Homo sapiens: one gene and its partner. The protein of the gene in region 2 interacts with the protein of the main gene of each other region in a biochemical or structural test. Each region holds a gene or a part of one and is shown on either strand. Other genes may lie near its edges.

Region 1 (7,294 bases), on a different chromosome or scaffold from region 2:
CGTGTCTGTGTAGAAAGAGGTAGACATGGGAGACTTTTCATTTTGTTCTACACTAAGAAAAATTCTTCTGCCTTGGGATCCTGTTGATCGGTGACCTTAAACCCAACCCTGTGCTCTCTGAAACATGTGCTGTATCCACTCAGGGTTGAATGGATTAAGGGCGGTGCAAGATGTGCTTTGTTAAACAGATGCTTGAAGGCAGCATGCTCCTTAAGAGTCATCACCACTCCCTAATCTCAAGTACCCAGGGACACAAACACTGCGGAAGGCCGCAGGGTCCTCTGCCTAGGAAAACCAGAGACCTTTGTTCACTTGTTTATCTGCTGACCTTCCCTCCACTATTGTCCTGTGACCCTGCCAAATCCCCCTCTGCGAGAAACACCCAAGAATGATCAATAAAAAATAATAATAATAAAATAAAATTAAAAATAAATAAATAAATAAAAGCTGCAAATGAAGTCTAGAATCTTTCTGAATTTGTAAGATCCAGTGGCCGGTTACCTTAACAATCAATTACATTACTCATTGTAGGTGAAAGAACCAGGAAACCAAGAATGCAAAAAAGATATGGAAATACAATTGAAGAAAGACAACTTTAATATCAACTTCCACTTTAATTTTTGAAGGCTACTAGTAAAAACATACATTTTAAGCAGTACAACCTCTTTAAAAAGAATGTTACTCAGCACTCCTCTTACCTTTCTTGTTAATAGACTTTTACGTCTCATTCCACAAGCCTCTAGTTGTAACCTTCCTCTCAATGCTAATTCAATTAACATACAGCCACGTAATCCAGATGATATACAGTCATTCCAAAATGATGTGTAACCCTATTAAAAAAAGAAGAAGAAATAAAACAAAATAGCTAATTTACCTTGAATTCAGAGTAAAAAACAGAAATATTATCAGCCAAAGTCATATTTGGTGCCTTTTACCTTTCCTGTCTTTCTATAATAATATACTGAAAAAATACAATTAACATAAATTACTAATCGAGAATTTTCGGGGGCTTATCTTTCCACCACTTATTCTTACATACAAACAACAAATAACTTTAGAGGTCATAAGTTTAGAAACATAACTCACATTTCACCAAGCTGTGTGTTTATTAGGTTCTTTCAGAACCCTGCAAACTCCAAGGAATACTCAGTTAACCCCAGATTATAGTGATTTATTTATGTGGACAAGTTAAGAAGCTCAGGCAAAGACAACCTAGCCAAGTTAGCTTCACAGAGAATTAGAATACCATTCATTTATTGCTGTTTAGGATAAAACCACAAGGTTAATCCGAGCACTTTGGGAGGCTGAGCCAAGACGATGGCTTGAGCCCAGGAGTTTGAGACCAGACTGGACAACATAGTGAGATCCTGTTTCTACCAAAAAAAATTAATTAGCTAGGTGTGGTGCTGCACACCTGTAGTCGCAGCTACCCAGGAAGCTAAGGCAGGAGGACCACTGTGTCCAAGAGTTCAAGGCTACAGTGAGCAATAATTACACCAACACACTGCAGCCTGGGCAAAACAGTGCGACATTGTCTCTTAAATACACACACTGTTAATTTTGTAAGAAGATATTAGAAAAACACACATGCGCCCACAAACAAATGGATGGCTATAGGCCTAAAATTCTCAATAATAAACAGTATAACAATCAGATTGGCCCCAAGAGAGAATGTAAGGGCAGCATCCACAGTGGAAGAACGGCCAGACATAAGGAGGTTGATAGACATCTAGAGATCTGGGATACTGGTCAAGCAGGCATCACCAGATGAGGTCAGGACACTTTAACAGCAAACAACTGGGGTTGTTCAAATTATAAAGCCACAAATCTTGCCAGCAGGATTGCCAGCTATCAATTTAAGATACCCAGTTCTCATGAGACAGCAGAAGCTATAAATAACTCTCATTAAGGCTCAGAACAGGGTAACACAATTTTGGTAGGAGAACAGGCCAACTGAATCTCTAAAGAATGGAGGGCCCAGGATTAGGAAGGCCTGGCCCTCACCTCTGGCACTTTTCCAAGGTCAATCCTGGCACTTTGTCAGGCCAGAGTAGTGAGCTTGTGTTTCAGAAGATGACTGACCATTGAGGTCCATCAAACTTCATTTTTGATACAAGGAGTTAAATTCGCCTCACCAAGCTACCACTTCTGAGAATGTGACCTTTGGGAAAATAACAATTTAAAGGAGGCACAAGCGGATAAACAAAAACATCAGTGTTAAGAGATCAATTTAAATGTGAGGTGTAAGTAGCAGACACTGACTGGATTTTAGGGAGTCACTTTAAACTTAGGGTCGGGGCCTGATCAAATGAAGATTACCAGAGATTTAGCAAAGTGGCTAATAATACCAGTACTTTATAGAGGTTAGGTAAAATGCGTGGCTTCTGTGTCCATGAAATTAAAGCCCTAGGAAGCCTGAGAATGAATTCCACATGAAATTAAAGTTACAGATATCTGGCTTTGACTGGCCTGGACATATAGACAGAGTTCCTAAATGAGCCTCTACAAACTGTAAACAACAGAGAACACCTCATAAAGCAATAATGGACGTGAACAGCCCTACAGCCTGCAAACTCCAGCTGAACAGTACCTGGAGGCTTACATTTGACAGCAGAGAACTAAAATATGTCTCAATCTCAATTGCTCCTAGAGTAATGGCATACCCAGAGATATTAGCAAAATGGGGTCTTTAGTAACAGACTTCAGAGATCTAAATTTAGTGAATGGCTTTAGGCATCATCGCTGAAAGACACATGCTTAAACAGAATTGGATTCACATGGGAAAGTAGATGAATGGGAACGGACAGTTCTGTACCACAGCTTCTGGGACTCGTCAGCAATATTCCAAAGATAAATGAAGCCAACAAAGACACACCAAACAACAGAAAAGTACAGTATGTTGATACCCTCCTGCTAAAATCCATGTCATAAAAGCAGGATCAAAAATTAACCATAGGGTGGCCAGGCGCAGTGACATACACCTGTAATCCCAGCACTTCGGGAGGCAGAGGCAAGCAGATTGCTTGAGCCCAGGAATTCCAGACCCCTGGGCAACATGGTGAAACCCCATCTCTACAAAAAATACAAAAATTAGCCGGGCATGGTGGCACCCGTCTGTGGTCCCAGCTACTTGGAAGGCTGAGGTGGGAGAATCACCTGAGCTCAGGAACTTGAGGCTGCAGTGAGCCATGATCATGCCACTGCACTCCAGCCTGGATGACAGGAGTAAGACCCTATCTCAAAAAAAAAAAAAAGATAAAATATGTGGGGAAGGTTAGTAACTGGCAGCATCAAGCAGCTTATGACTGTAGTCATAATTAGTTCCTATGTTCTAAAATATAAGGATGGGAGAGGACAGAGACACCCCAAGTAGGCTGGGCCATACACTACCAGACCTCCATCTGCCTGATTCCCTTTATTCTTTCAAGTGGCTCAATTTGAATGGTAGAAAAGGGTATTGTTTATTAAGTCCCCTAAAACTGCCAACACTGAGAAGAGTTCTCACCATTCCAGTTAAGAGCTACTGTTCTGCTCTCAACTGCCTACTTACCCAGAAGCTTTTTGTTAAGAAGGAACTCAAAAGGTTGGTAACCCAAAATGAAATGTAATAAAAATATTTTGTATAAAGATCATAACAGGGATATAACCGGAAGTATAAGATTTTCCTTATATGTTATTAAAAACATTTACAACATGGGAAAATGCTCATAATATATATTCTACATGAGAAACAGATAAAAAATTATATTATCTAAAGCAGAGTGTCCAATCTTTTGGCTTCCCTGGGCCATACTGGAAGAATTATTATCTTGGCCCACACATAAAATATACTAACACTAATGACAGCTGATGAGCTAAAGAAAACAAAAAAAAAAACCTCATGTTTTAACAAAGTTTACAAATTTGTGCTGGACCAGATTCAAAGCCGTAGGCCACCTGCGGCCCACAGGCCACGGGTTGGACAAGCTTGATCTAAAGTGTAATCTTATTTTGAAGTTACATAAATATTAATACGTATGTATATCATAGGTTTGTATTTACAAAAAAACTTATAAATGTTCACATCCTTTGACACAATTCTTATGGGCCTTTAGTTAGAAAATACTGTGCACAAAAATATATGTACAAATATATTGATCACATCATTATCATAGTAAAACACAAAAACAATCTAAAAGCAAAAAAAAGGGAATAAACTCAGCACTTCCCAAACTTTCCTGACCTTGAAGCATTTTAATTTACAGTATACTTTTAACAGCCTACAGAATATTACAATTCTATGAAAATCAGTTTTAAAAATCCTGGTGCAGGAGGCGGAGGCTGCAGTGAGCCGAGATTGCACCACTGCACTCTAGCCTGGTGACAGAGCAAGACTTCATCTCAAACAAAAAAAAAAAGAAAAGAAATCCTGGTGCAGAGGTTATTACAAAACATGAAAAATTATTATGAAATCGTGTGTGTGTGTGTAGAGAGACAGAAAATAGTCCCATTTTTTAGGGAGATTAGAAGAAAAGTTTTAGCAGCAGTAATGTCTGGTGATTATGGTGATCTTTATTTTCTTTAGGCTTTTCTGTATATAGTAAAGGAAAACTCGTGGCAAGGAGATAAGTAAGGTTTTCCTTACTGATCAACTATAGTTATAGTTGTTCAAGCTTAAAAGGCAATAGTTATGATAGTGGCAGTAATTTGACAGAGGCAAAACACTAGAAGAACTAAAAACTCTCCATGAAAATAACTATGAACCACAAAGTAAAACATATTTGTGAAGTAGTAAAGAACTGTGCTCAAGAGCCCAGACCGCACAAACACCTGGCGATTCAAATCAACTCCAGCTCTACCACATACTATATAGTTAAATTTCTGAGACTAGTTTTCTTCATATAAAACAAGTTGTGAAGATTAAATAATATATATAAAGCACAACCCCTGGCAATTAGTAATTACTTAATTATGTACAATTAGAATGGAATGGGGATGGAGGACTGCAAACTCAGTTACTTAGAAAGTACAAAGAACATGACTGAATAAAGAGACCCAGGTGTGGATTGCAGCAAGCTGGACAATGTCCTCTTCCATCTATCTGGGGAAGACAGCTTAGCCCTTATCAACTGTTGCCATGTAAAATGTGGGCCTGCTCTTGCCACATCTTTTTCAAGAGGGCAGAAACGTCCGTTTCTATATATTACTTCCATCTTTGAAAGGATTACAACTCAAGTTTTACTAAACAAAACATATCTGGCAAACCAGTTTGCAACCGCTAAACATTTTACAAAACATACTACGTTATATGAATGTTCAGTTACTAGTAGTCTGTATAGGCATAAAGTACTCAAAATAGTTTCATTTTGTTTTTATGTACAAAATATTTCAAAATGAAATCACTAAAAACACTATATTTTCTATATAAGGTTGAATTCTGGTGTGACCAATGTTTTGGAAATGGCTTTCTAATAGAAATATAGGCCAGGTCCACATGGTGGCTCACGCCTGTAATCCCAGCACTTTGGGAGGCCAAGGTGGGCAGATCACGATGTCAGGAGATCGAGACCATCCTGGCTAACACGGTGAAACCCCATCTCTACTAAAAATATAAAAAATTAGCTGGGCGTGGTGGTGGGCACCTGTAGTCCCAGCTACTCGGGAGGCTGAGGCAGGAGAATAACGTGACCCCAGGAGGCGGAGCTTGCAGTGAGGCGAGATCGCGCCAATGCACTCCAGCCTGGGCAAGAGAGCAAGACTCTGTCTCAAAAAAAATAAAAAATACAAAATACAAAATTACCCAGGCGTGGTGGCGCATGCCTGTAATCCCAGCTACTCAGGAGGTTGAGGCAGGAGAACTGCTTGAACCTGGGAGGCAGAGGTTGCAGTAAGCTGAGATCGCACCACTGCACCCCAGCCTGGGCAACAAGAGCGAAACTCCATCTCAAAAAAAAAGAAAAAAAGAAAGGTGATTGTACTTGCCAAATCTAAATGGACCAGGATGAACAAATTAAGTCTCCCTCCTGAGTATCTGAACTTGCCATACTGAATCAGTTATATGGGCATGGCACTGGAGCTGTACTGGCTGTGTGGATTCAGAAGCTACTGGCCATTGGGTACAAATGCAGAGAATGAAGGTAACAGAAAGGAAAACAGAAGACAAATGCAGAGTAGAAATGAGAGAGGATGCAATGTGAGGCAAACCAAGACATACAGAGACAGAGAGGCAGACAGGCACATACACGGAATAGCATGTTTGTTGTTTTAACCTGCTATGTTTTGTTATGCAGTAAGATAATTAATACAGTGGGTGCCCAGGGCTGGCAAAATGGGAAAAGGGAGAGGTAATGGCTAAAGGGGATGAGCTTTCTTTTGGAAGTGATAAAAATATTCTAAAATTGATTATGGTGGTGGTTGTACAAATCTGAAAACCTTGAATTGTACACTTCAAATGACAATTATATGGCATATGAATCATATCTCAGAGCTGTTACAAAAAAACATTCTATAAAGTCACTTCTGAAATCTTACATGAAATTTTGATTATGTCAAAAATTAAGAATCAAAAAGTTCTTGACAAAAATAACTAATCAAGAGAATGAAGGTGACTTCAGGTAAAAGCAGATTAAAAAGACTAGACAAGAAAAGGTATCTACAGATATAAGAACTGTTAAAGAAGTAGTAAGGCTGGGCACTGTGGCTCACGCCTGTAATCTCAGCACTTTAAGAGGCCGAGGCGGGCAGATCACCTGAGGTCACGAGTTCAAGACCAGCCTGGCCAAGGCGGCAAAACCCCATCTCTACTAAAAATACAAAAATTAGCCAGGTGTGGTGGCTCATGCCTGTAATAGCAGCTACTCGGGAGGCTGAGGCAGGAGAATCGCTAGATCCTGGGAGGCAGAGGCTGCAGTGAGCCACTGCACTTCAGCCTGGGCAAAAGAGTGAAACTGTCTCAAGAAAAAAAAAAAAAGTAGTAAAACTGCATTTGCTGGTGATATTGTTGGATATTTAGAAAAACTCATAAGAGTAAATGGAAAAATTACTATAGATAGGAGTTTAGTAAAGTAGCCAGATTATATAAAATTAAACACCAGTTGTCATATACAAACAAAATACACATGTTAAAATACTAAAAAGTTAAAATATAATTGAAAAGACCTTTACAACAGCAACAAAAAGAACAAAAAATACCATGGCAAAACCTATATGAAAAGTTTAAAGTCTCTTGAAAGACTTAAAAATAGACTTGAATAATAGAAAGATATTTCATTCTTATATACAAAGTCTCAGCATTATTATTAGTTCTTCCTAAGTT
Region 2 (5,951 bases):
ATTTTAACTTCTGAAATATTATATGCTTTTCATTTTCAGTAACATCTAGCATGTGGAATTTAGATAAATAAATCTTAAAACCTGCATTCAAATTCACTTGCATTTTCCTCTCATTTAGTCCCTTGCATAGGTTTTCCTGAGCACTGGATGACTCATTGTTCTATAATGAGGCATCACTTTTGTTCTCTCTTACAATATTGTCATGTAATGAGGCCACGATGATGTCTATAAAGAGCACTGCTAATTTTAGTAATACAAGAAAGTCAGTGTTCTGTGAGGCAGTCATCACCATTGCTCTCATCAAAATCTGATTTTTGAAATGTAAATGAATCATTCATTAAAGTAAAATATATTTAAATATATTTATACTATTAAAAATTTGGTTAATATTTGATATTGTCCAGCAGGTGGAGATAGAGACAAACAAATAAAACTTGAAATCTAGGCTTTCATAACGTCTTTATCATTGTTGTGTGCTAAATACAGTGGGATAAATGTAGCTAGTTGCTTACTTTAATGGTCAAATTTAGTTATTCACGTGACACTGCTGGGGTAGCTTTGTGTTTCAGCTGTGAGTATTTAAAGCTCTGTGGCAAGTTGAGGATTACAACATATTAATAGATTTATGTATAGTTTTCAAATTCTAGATTTGGCTAACATAAATCAATTTATTATTAAACAAAAAGTGGGGAAAGCTGCCTCACACTAAAAAAATCTGTCAACCCTCCATTTTATTTACTCACCCAGTATTTGTTATCATATCCCATCTGTCATGCAAGCAAGGACTTGTTTGCTATGTAATAATGATATGACCTAGCTTAACATTCCCTGTTACTGTCATTTACAGATAATTTCCAGGAAGTGATAAGCACGTATCAATTGATGATTTTGTTTCTTATAACAAGTTAGGAAGGAGAAGAATAGCATAAACCTTAAAGAGTGGAGCATTTATTTTCACAAAAAAAAAGGATATATAATAGCAATAAATAGTAGGGGTCAGTGAGAACAATATTAGCAAAATAGTAAAAGAGGGCTAACACACCAGAAACTACATCAAGAAGTAATTGAACAAAAAATGACACATAACATGTTTTAGGTATTTTAAAGACGCAGCACTGAATATACATTTGTGTGTTAGATATTACTGAACATTCACTTGGGGACCAATAATATGTTAGACTGTAGGGGAGTTCAAAAATATAGCTAAAGCACGCTATTATATAATGGCAGAGAAGAAAGAAATGCAAAAATAGAGATAAGCAAAATGCCATAGGACAGAAAAGAGTGATTCATGGGAGGAATTACTGCTGAGGAGTTTCATAGAGGAAGTGTCATTGCACAAGTCCTGAAGTGTAAAAAGGCTTTCCATGGAAAGTAAATAAGAAAGCCTGGATGAGCAAAGATGTGGCATGAAAACATGTAGAAAATTCAAAGAATTGTATTTCATTTGGTATCCCTCAATTGTGCTTTGGAGGAAAGAGCACCGAACTTCATTTTTTAAGTTTTGGAGAGGGATAGACCTTATTTGAGGAAGGTAGTGATGGAAAACAATGGCTACTTTTAGGAAAATAATTCTGGAAACGTGAGGTATGGACTGATGAAGCAACGAGATCAGCTTGAGCAGCAGTTCTCAAACTTTCTGTCCTCTGGATTCCCTTTACACTCTTAAAAATTTTTGAGCTCCCCCACCCCCAAATTGCTTTTGTTTATATAGGTTATCACTAGCAATATTTCCAGAACTGGAAAGTGTCTGAGAAATTTGTAAAGTTTTTATATATTAATTCATCTAAAAGTAATAATAATATACTTATTAAACATTAATGTAAATGACATTTTTAATGAAAAATAACTATGTTTACCCACAAAAAATAGTGAGAAGAATGGAATTCTGTATTTTTGCAAATCTCTTTAATGTCTGGTTTAATAGAAGAAGACAGCTGGATTCTCATACTCCTGCTTCATTTGGTCTGATCTGAAATGTTGTTTTCGTTCAAGTATATGAGGGAAACCCAGCCCCACACAAGCATACAGTTTGTAAAGGGAGCGAGTACTTTAATAGCCGTTCATATAATTGTGGCTGTTTTTTTATTGTACACCACAACTTAATAATTAAGTGGTAGTTTCTTAAAAGTTATTTCCAGTGTAGACTGATATCCTTGAGCATTGTACCTCATTATATGGAAGTACTTGATACGTACTTCCCACTTCATCTCATAGAATTTTTTTTAAGTATACTGAGGGGTCAAGACTGAATAAAACGAATGTTTTGCTCCTTCATCAGTGACATCCTTAAGTGAAACCGGCATTTACTTTTCAACTGTGTGTGGCCATGAGCAATACAACTATAGGTACTAGCATAGTTTGATTCATGCTAAGGCACCATCAGTTTTACTCACCATTGCTTTTGCACTATCGGTATAAATGTTGCTAAAGTGAAAAGGCAATGGTGTCTTCGTATTATGATGAAAATAGTTTCGGCCTTACAGACCCAATCCTGGATAGTCTGAGGACCAGACTTTGAGAAGCTCTGAGCTATATTGAAGAAACCTACAGCATATGGTGAGGGCCAAACCAGGGCATCTGCAGTGGCGATGGGAAGGAATATAAACCAGAGACATTGCACATATCCATCCTTAGTGACTGGTATGTGAGTGAATGAGGAAAAGTGCAGTATTTCCTAAGGACTAGAGAGCTGGGAATGTCATTAGCCAGGATAGGAACAAGAGACATAGATTTGGAGGGGCAGATAATGAATTTAGGTTTGTATACATTGAGTGTGAGATACCAGCAGTATATTGTGACTTAACAATGAAAGATCTTAGGACTTAGAAAACTGACAATCAAGAGAAATCCAGAAAACTGACAATCAAGAGAAATCCAAAGTCTGAGGTGTGGTTGAGAAGCTTTTCCATTTCCTTAAACTGTCTCCTCATGAAAGTCAAGTGATGATTTCTGATGTCAGTGATATCAAGGGTCCAAATTTGAAACTTTTTTCTTACTGTGTTTTCCAGAACCTGCACAGATTTACTCATATTCCTTCAGGAAAGTGTTTAGATCGCTCAGAGGTCCTGCATCAAGTATTCATCTCCAATTGTGACTCCAGTAAAACGACTCAAAAATGGGAAATGAATAACATCCATAGTGTTTAGAGAGAAAAAAATAAACCAATAACCTACCTACTGACAAGTAAATTTATACAGGACTGAAAACCGCCTGAAACCTGCTGCAACTATTGTTATTAACTCTGTATAGCTCCAAACCTGGAACCTCCTGATCAGTTTGAAGGACATTGATAAACTGTGATTTTACAATAACATTATCATCTGCAGTTACTGTTTACAAGACTGCTTTTACCTTAAACTTTGTAGATGTTTACATCTTTTTGTTGTGTTTTAAGATGATGTTGGTAATTTGTGCCTTTAGCTCTGTTTTATTAGACAGAGTTAAAGCATGTTGTCTTCTTTGGGATTACACTCAGGGGTCTGAAAGGCAGTTTGATTTTTATTTTTAACACACTTGAAAAAAGGTTGGAGTAGCCAGACTTTCATATATAACTTGGTGATTATCAACCTGTTGTGTCTTTATTTAATTTTACATCTTTTTGAAGCACTGCCACAGGTTATTAGCCAAGGTGGCCTTCCTTCACAGTCATGCTGCTTTTTTGAAAGGTGAATTTCAACACATTTAGTGCCTCTTTCATTTCTCAGTATATATTTCAAGAGCTTGTGATGAAATCTATAGGATGGTAATGATGGACTTGTCACCTGTATGGGGAATACTTTTACTACTCAGAAATGAATTTATGTGCTGCCATTTGCTATAAAGTTGAACTTTGTATGGCTTGAAAAAGAAATGACAATATGGAACATCCCAAGGCTGTCCCATAGGGTTGGAAGTTGTGTAGCATTCACTCCCTTACCTACTGGCATTCCCAGTGCCCTCTGTCCATACCTACTTCTAGGATTGCAAAGGAGTCTTCCAACTAGAGAAAAATTGTCCACTGACATTTGGGATTTACTTTTCTCCAATACCTGCCAATACAGAAAACTATTATCAGTTGTTATTGTTATCCCTTGAAAGCGAGGGTGACAAAAACAACAAAACACCGTTATAAACACATCAAAGGTTCATTCTGACTGAGGTAAGACTTTCCAAGCCCTTGTTAGATTAGGCCTTATAAAACTTGTGTGCATTATAACCTAAGCTGTGCAACCTGTGAAGCCAAGAGTGAACTGATGTTTCATTTATATTTTCATCCAAATGACATTATCTGCACGTTTTTAAAATTTAAAAACAAAGGACTATTTAAAAATACAGTTTATTAACAAACGTGAACTACTTTCTGTTACATTAGGTGTTCCCTAGTGTTTCTTAATTTCTTTTTAGAAAGTGTATTTTTATTAGTATTTTTCCGGTGAACAGAAGATTTGTTTGGATTTAAACATTTACTAAGACAGTACCTATTAGGAAAACCAAATATTGCAAATGGTCAATTCGATTTTAATTTCTCAAAAGATACTCTGTTATCCAGAAGATTAAAATGCCTACATTGAGTGCTTAAAAAAAAAAAAACAACTGTGATGATGTGAGCAGAATGGCAAGTAAGTTAAGCATTTTTGATCCTGTAATCATGGTATCATTACAATGAAAGGAATTCACAAACTACTGCCAGAGGAAGTTTGTTTTTTAATTTAAGAGGGAAATATAACCTATAAATTTGTTTCTTCCAAGCTTAGCTCTTAAATTTGGAGACTCAAAGTTAAACATCCTCAACAGAGTTTTATTTATAATTTTGAATTGTCAATTTGTATTTTGCTACTGATCTGTGATCAACCATTTTAACTTTCATCTCTAGGGATGTTTAACATTTATAATTGCAAAATAAACCAACTATAAAAAAAGAAACTAAGAGAGAATTGGTACTTTAATTACTTGTGTGTTTGCAAATAGGCTCCATTTTCCATGTTGAGTAGATTATAACCTTATTAACTATGCATAGGCCTAAGAAAGGTGGCAATGAACTGTGCATGTAAATTTTAAATGGGTACTTTGTGCAATTCGTTAAAAGAAGATACTCTATGAATATGATTCTATATATTGAAATCAGAAAACCTACCAAACAAAAACATCAGAAGCTGCTGCCATAATGACTATTTTCTACTGTAGGCTGCTTTGGAAATAATTCCCATATCCTTGCTTTGTAAGTTGGTAATATCACTATGCATTTCTACACATTTTATAAATTTGATTTATGCAGATTTTGATACACTGTATGTTTCTGTAGAAATTGTATAAATATTCAAAATTTTATTAGGATAAATTTGAGAAACTTACGTATATCTTAATTCTGGGTTGCTTGTTTTTTAGGTGACAAAAATAAAATATTGTATTTTAATTCATGGGTTTTTTTGGTGCTTGTAATCATTTCAAATCTAAACACTGCACATTTGAAAGAATTACTTGATTTTACTATTTACAAGACACACAATACCTAAAATATTATAGACCATAGTTATTAGTTGAGTATGTGCTTGACTGTTGCTTAGCATTCTGTTACACATGCTTAGAATACTCAGAGCTTATGTATCTGTTGGAAGGAAACAAAGGTTTATTTTTACCTGTTTGCCTATGTATACCAATTTTTTAAGTTTATACTTTTTTTAATTATAAAAAATTACCCCAGCAACATATATCCTTCTTGGCTGTATATAGAATTGCCTTCTTGGCTGTACTATAGAATTGCCTATTAGAAGCAAACATGCCTTCAAATCAAATTTGTTTACAACCTGACAGATCAGGTTAAGTGGAGAAAAATGAAGAGAAGGGAAGCCTACCACAATGAAATTAGAAATAGTCCATAGCACCTTGTACAAAACACATCTCAAGAGAAGATACGGTTGCTAACAGATTCAAGTAAGTGGCTGTATTGATTTGGGAAACTTTCTCTCAAC

What was found.
Region 1: the proteins of GALNT7 (region 2) and GOLPH3 form a complex in vitro, tested with the Homo sapiens proteins (one study listed by BioGRID).

What each region holds. Positions count from the first base shown.
Region 1 is NC_000005.10:32,143,051-32,150,344, forward strand, and holds part of GOLPH3 (Golgi phosphoprotein 3), read right to left. Parts: intron 831-7,294; coding exon 699-830; intron 1-698. UniProt on the Homo sapiens protein: Phosphatidylinositol-4-phosphate-binding protein that links Golgi membranes to the cytoskeleton and may participate in the tensile force required for vesicle budding from the Golgi.
Region 2 is NC_000004.12:173,318,569-173,324,519, forward strand, and holds the end of GALNT7 (N-acetylgalactosaminyltransferase 7), read left to right. Parts: intron 1-3,011; coding exon 3,012-3,149; 3' UTR 3,150-5,399; downstream 5,400-5,951. UniProt on the Homo sapiens protein: Glycopeptide transferase involved in O-linked oligosaccharide biosynthesis, which catalyzes the transfer of an N-acetyl-D-galactosamine residue to an already glycosylated peptide.